Homo sapiens: one gene and its partner. The protein of the gene in region 1 interacts with the protein of each later gene in a pairwise test. Each region holds a gene or a part of one and is shown in the gene's direction. Other genes may lie near its edges.

The links. Proteins that work in one complex are often made in the same cells at the same time.
Region 2: the proteins of VEZT (region 1) and RMDN2 interact in a two-hybrid assay, tested with the Homo sapiens proteins (one large-scale study listed by BioGRID).

What each region holds. Positions count from the first base shown.
Region 1 is NC_000012.12:95,224,307-95,227,806, forward strand, and holds part of VEZT (vezatin), read left to right. Parts: intron 1-3,500. UniProt on the Homo sapiens protein: Plays a pivotal role in the establishment of adherens junctions and their maintenance in adult life.
Region 2 is NC_000002.12:37,973,787-37,977,286, forward strand, and holds part of RMDN2 (regulator of microtubule dynamics protein 2), read left to right. Parts: intron 1-253; coding exon 254-428; intron 429-1,425; coding exon 1,426-1,528; intron 1,529-3,500.

The sequences.
Region 1 (3,500 bases):
TAAAGCCACAACTTTTTTTTTTTTTTTGACAGGGTCTTGCACTGTTGCCTAGGCTGGAATGCAGTGTTAACCATCATAACTCACTGCAGCCTCCAACTCCTGGCTCAGGTGATCCTACCACTTCAGCCTCTCAAGTAGCTGGGACTACAGGCAGGTGCCACCATGTCCAGCTAACCTGTAACTCTTATCACGGGATTCTTCTTGGGAAAGGCTAGGAGCAGCCATCTTATTTCCTGTGTTTGGGCTTTACCACCTATGAGACCTGTAACCCCCTCTACCCCTATTACCACTTTCATTCAACTTAGATCTCAGGCCACTGACTGAGAAAGGCCTTCTTTTGAAGAGCTGAAAGCTTGTAAGGCATGTTTTCTTGCCATCTACCACTTGATTACTCAGCCAGTGGAACATATTTCAGGTTCTGCTGAGTCAGCCCTACTTCTAGATACTAAGTACTGTGTCACCCATACATCCTAATGCACAGTGACTGGTTTTTGGCACCAGGGACTTGTTTCGTGGAAGACAGTTTTTCCAGATGGAGGATGGTTTCAGGATGAAACTGTTCCACCTGAGATCATCAGGCATTAGTTAGATTCTCATAAGGAGCTCACAACCTAGATCTCTCACATGCACATTTCACAATAGGGTTCCTGCTCCTATGAGAATCTAATGCTGCCACTGATCTGACAGGAGGCGGAGCTCTGATAGTAACGCTTGCTCACCCACTGGCCCACCATCCTGCTGGCCTCGGGCTGTATTCCTAACAGGCCATGGACCGGTACCAGTGCTGTGCAGGCCTGGGGGTTGAGGACCCCTGTTAATGCAGTAAACAGGAACCTGTCTATGTGCCATAAGCAGAAAGGAATTTAACATAGGGAATTAATGGTTAGATTATCATCGGAAGGCCTACAGGATCAAGCTCTATCAAAGTTGCTATATGCTCATGAAGACAAGAGCACGTGATCATGATCATAGTTACAATCCAGGAATTAGAAGCCATCACCACTTTGGGAGTCCGAGGCGGGCGGATCACCAGGTCAGGAGATTGAGACCTTCCTGGCTAATGCTGTGAAACCCCATCTCTAGTAAAAATACAAAAAGAAATTAGCCGGGCTTGGTGGCGGGCGCCTGTAGTCCCAGCTACTCGGGAGGCTGAGGCAGGAGAATGGCGTAAACCCAGGAGGCTGAGCTTGCAGTGAGCCAAGATCGCGCCACTGCACTCCAGCGTGGGCGATAGAGCAAGACTCTGTCTCAAACAAAACAAAACAAAACAAAACAAAACAAAAGCCATCACCACATCTGCCTCTCAATAACCTAACAAAGTGATACCTTGGTATTGGAACTTGGAGTCTCTCCACTGTCTCTACCACACCTGCAGCTGTGTTATCAAGAAGCTGGAGAATCCATATTGGAATACTGCTATAGAAACATTTTGCCTCCACAGCTTTGTTTCATAGCAAAAAAAAAAAAAAAAAAAAAAAAAAAAAAAAGAGAGAGAAGGATGGAGGGAAGAGAAGGAATGAGAGAACAGACAAATGAAAGAACAAGGCCAGCAGTGGGGGGATCACTTGAGGCCAGCAGTTTGAGACCAGCTTGGGCAATATAGAGAGACCTTGTTTCTACAAAAAATTATTTTAAAGAATTAGCTGGGCATGGTGGCATGCATCTCTAGCCCTAGCTACTCAGGAGGCTGACGCAGGAGGATTGCTTAAACCCAGGAGTTCAAGGCTGTGATGAGCTTTGATGAGGCCACTGCACTCTGCCTTGGTGACAGATTGAGACTTTGCCTTTATTTAAAAAAAAAAAAAAAAAAGAACAGTTGAAACAAAAGCCAAAGAAGCAAAAAGTGGACTTCTGCTCTTCTTCCACCTTCCAAATCTCTTACACCATACACCTACTTGGGGAAACCCTGATTTATATCTAGAATCCTAGCTGCAAGATAATTTGGGAAATTTCAGATGTAGCTTTCCTGCCTCTGTAACACAAGAGATACATTGGAAGAAGGATTATAGAATAGAGATTGAACAAGCCAAGCCAATTTACCATATCTATCTTAGGGCTGAACCTCTCTTCCCCTAAGAAAATTTAACTGTGATTTTTTTTTTTTTGGTATATTTGTTGTAATACTGTTATTTTAATGATCTTCAGATAGAAATCAGAGTCATTCATGTATTGAGACTTACCTAGAGAATTACATGCTGCATGAAAGTTAAAAACTTAAATCATGCAGAGTTTTGGATAATATTCCAACAACATCCCTTCCCTTAAAACAAACTCTTTGAGGTATCTTGTTTTAATTTCTGTTTCTTGGATTATTTGTAAATTTTACTGTACTATATTTTGGGTCATTTGTATTTCTCCTTCCAGTGATCACTTTGAGTCCTCTTAGTCTGAGAGGACTAGATGTGCACTGAAAGATGATAATATAAGAGAAGGACTAAGGGAGGAAAGAAAGAGTGAAGTGCCCAGGCCCAATTCCCATTTCTTGCCCTAGAATCTGATTACCCATTTTATCAGAGCTAGATTCCGTATGTACTTTCAATGTTAATTCCATTATATTGGAGCCTGACTCCTCCTCCTATAAGATCATTTGTTTTAATTAGAATCTTCTACCATCATTCTACTCTAAGAGGCTGAATTGAGAAGGACAGTATAACCTCAGTCTTGGACCTCTCAGGCTAAACAGCAACAGAACAAAGTTTAGAAAATGATGGATACTATGTCTAATGTGAATATTAACAAAATAAGCATGAAATACCAAGATTGTTGTTTTACTCTGTTATCGTCATCATTAATTACAGTGTTTTGAGAGTAAGAATTCTCCAATTACTTTAGAAAGGTATTAAAGTTCTGATGTTGCTTTCTTAACTGTTTTTTAGACAGGGTCTCACTCTGTCACCAGGCTGGCCTCCAATAGAACAATCACTGTTCACTGCAGCCTCCACTTCCCAGGCTCAGGTGATTATCTCATCTCAGCCTCCCAAGTAGCTGGGACTACAGGCATGTGCCATCATGCCCTACTAATTTTTTCTTTTTTTTTTTTTTTTTTGAGATGGAATTTTGTTTTGCTCTTGTCGCCCAGGCTGGAGTGCAATGGCGTGATCTCGGGTCACTGCAACCTCCACCTCCCGGGTTCAAGCGATTCTCCTGCCTCAGCCTCCCAAGTAGCTGGGATTACAGGTGCATGCCACCACACCCTGCTAATTTTTGTATTTTTAGTAGAGATGGGGTTTCGCCATGTTGGCCAGGCTTGTCTCGAACTCCTGACCTCAGGTGATCCATCCGCCTCGGCTTCCCAAAGTGCTGGGATTATAGGCATGAGCCACCATGCCCGGCCAATTTTTTGTATTTTTTGCAGAGAGTGGGTTTTGACATGTTGCCCAGGTTCAAGTGATTGTTCTGCCTCGGCCTCCCAAAGTGCTGGGATTACAGACATGAACGACTGCACCGGGCCTTAAATTTTAATTGCAGAAACTTCAGGTCATCTGTCTTAAACCTTGCTA
Region 2 (3,500 bases), on another chromosome or scaffold:
AGCTAGGTGACCTGTGTGTATTTGAATAAGAAGAGTAGTAGGAAATGAGATCAAAGAGGTAACGAGATCGTGGGCAAATTGCGCAGGGACTTGTAGACTTCTGTTAGGACTGGAGCTTTTTCTGAGTGAAAGCACGTGCCACTGCAGAGTTTCAAGCATAAGAGGGGCATGATTTGACTTGCATTTTAAAAGGAATGCTCTGGCTATTATACTTAACTTTCAAAGGAGTTGATGATTATTTCTGCGATTTTAGGTATATTACAGCTAATACTGACACAGAAGAACAGAGTTTTCCAGTCCCTAAGGCATTTAACACACGTGTAGAGGAATTAAATTTAGATGTCCTTCTTCAGAAGGTAGATCATTTACGTATGAGTGAGTCTGGCAAGTCGGAGAGTTTTGAACTACTTCGTGACCACAAAGAAAAGGTAAGAGACATAACAATAGCACTTCGTATAGTTCCATTTTTTAATTTAATCTGCCATCTGTTTCAGTTATAACTATAATAATTGTGTCATGGTTCCCACATTTTGATGATTGATGTAAAATTTCTCTATAAAATGACTAAAATTTTTTAAAATTTATTTTTTATTTAAGATGCATAAAATTTTAAAAAAGTAAATGTAAAAGTTTATTAGACTCTAAGGTCATAAAAATGAGAACCAGAGCTATAATTACGCAGATTTACTTTTATTTGATTTTTTTTTTTTACTAATTTATATATTTAACAAATATTTTGAGACAGATATGGGTATTCAAAGCTATTTCTACCAATGGTCATTTGTTGATTTTGCAGTGTTTAGTGTTGGGTCTGAATAAGAAAAGCCTGTCCAGAGCTCTTACCACCACCACTAAAAAAAATAAAATAAAATAAAATAAAATTAAAAATTAAAAGTTTGCAGTGTCCCATGGAGAAATAAATCTCTATTTGTCTGAGGATTTAGCAACTCTAAACACATTGTCTAAAACTTGATAGCTCTCCAGGATTATATTTAGGTAATTTGAGTAAAAAAAGTGACTGCTCTTTTGAGTATATGCATTTTCAATTTACAGATATTAACTGAGATGCTCATTATATTGATAATAGATAACTTGGAAAGGAAAAGAAGAAAAGGATGCCACAGCTCAGGAAGAATTTCTAGATTTTGGTGCCTATCAAATCTCTTCTCTGCATAGATGGAGCTAGTGTCTGGATAATATTAATTGGTTTTAAGATCCAAATGTAACACTACATTAGGTCATATTTCTTAGCCATGAGTATTTGGATTAAAAATGTTTCACACGAAATATGCATATACATAGATTCAATAATCTATAAATACCAGTTTACCTGCCTAAGTTTTTAAAAAGTTGCAGTAGAAAACAAGAATAGAATAGACAAGTTACCAAGTTAATTTAACAGGCAACTCCATCTTTTCTTTTCAGTTTAGAGATGAAATAGAGTTTATGTGGCGATTTGCTCGTGCTTATGGAGACATGTATGAACTATCTACAAACACACAAGAAAAGAAACATTATGCTAATATTGGTAAGCATTTTGTAAAGATTATTCTCAAGTAGCAATTAAGATCTATAGTAAATCATGCAGCCGTAAAAAAGGATGAGTTCATGTCCTTTGCAGGGACATGGATGAAGCTGGAAACCATCATTCTCAGCAAACTAACACAAGAACAGAAAACCAAACACTGCATGTTCTCACTCATAAGTGGGAGTTGAACAATGAGAATACATGGACACAGGGAGGGGAACATCACACAACAGGGCCTGTCTTGGGGTGGGAGGCTAGGGGAGGGATAGCATTAGGAGAAATACCTAATGTAGATGTCGGGTTGATGGGTGCAGAAAACCACCGTGGCACGTGTATACCTATGACCTGCATGTTTTGCACATGTATGCAAGAACTTAAAGTGTAATAAAAAAAAAGATCTATAGTAAATCACTAGTGAATGTTAACTAAAGCTAAATTATCTTAGCTAAAACCAGTATGTTTAATCTATTTTAATATATTATGGTACAAAAAAATGTACACTCTCAGAACAGAAAGGCATTTTAGGGCTAAAGTATATGTTCTTCAGAAATATTTGAATATATTAGAATAGGTAACTGAAAAAAACTTAAATTTCATCTTTTAACTTTATAAAACTTAGACAAGAAATGTAGTGGCAGTGTTTGAGAAACAATAACAGGCAGAGGACAAGTGTCTTCAGCAGTTGTCAACCACAGTTAAAGTAACACATCTTACTTCCTGTAATGTAGAACTCTAGGGACTACGAAGAATAAACTCGCAGACTTTAATGTTTTTTCCAAATGTATCTTGATGAAACAAGATTAACCTTGTTAAAAACTCTGTTTGATAATTGTCTAAGCTGAATGATGATTACATGTTGGTTCATTATTCTGACATCTATACTTTTCTACAAGTTTTTGAAATTTTTCATCACAACAAGAACAACTAAATAGATAGAATATCAAACTGTTATTTTTATACCTCACCTTGACTCTTACTGGATGTCAAAATGTGTCCTTGCAAAAGCCCCTACCTGCCATCTCTCTGAATGTCAGCATAGTACTTTGACATCAAAATCTTTTGAATTCTTCATTTATTCCGAAGGCTTCTCATTTCCAGGCTTTTCTTCTAGAAAAGATAGCAAGAGGAAGACACAGCAAGAAAGATTTCTTCCCAGTCTAGTTCTCTGTAATTTTTATTTCCAAGTAGAAAGTTTTACCAAACTCCTTGTAATTATATTTTTCCACTTGGAGATTCATTTGCTGAATGACCTCTGTGCTTTCGTTTCCCCCAGTGGGAGGAGGATGAGAGGGCTTCCCCCTCTTGTTTGCATATTCATCATCAGCTTTGTGGAGTTTTTCTGTAGCATTCCAGTTTGCAGACCATATACAAAACAGAATTCTAGAGAAGAGATGTATTAATTTCAACATAAATAAAAACTTAACCAAGGAGAACAAGGGGATTTATTTTCATATCTACTGAGAAAATCCAAGTATATCTATGTAAAGTGTTCCAACATTCATCAATATTAAATACATTTTTTTCTTTTTTTTTTTAAATTTTTTTAGTATTTATTGATCATTCTTGGGTGTTTCTCGGAGAGGGGGATTTGGCAGGGTCACAGGACAATAGTGGAGGGAAGGTCAGCAGATAAACATGTGAACAAAGGTCTCTGGTTTTCCTAGGCAGAGGGCCCTGCCGCCTTCTGCAGTGTTTGTGTCCCTGGGTACTTCAGATTAGGGAGTGGTGATGACTCTGAACGAGCATGCTGCCTTCAAGCATCTGTTTAACAAAGCACATCTTGCACCGCCCTTAATCCATTTAACCCTTAGTGGACACAGCATATGTTTCAGAGAGCACAGGGTTGGGGGTAAGGTTATAGATTAACAGCATCCCAAGGCAGAAGAATTTTTTAGTACAGAACAAAATGGAGTCTCCTATGTCTACTTCTTTCTACACACAGTAACAATCTGATCTCTCTTTCTTTTCCCCA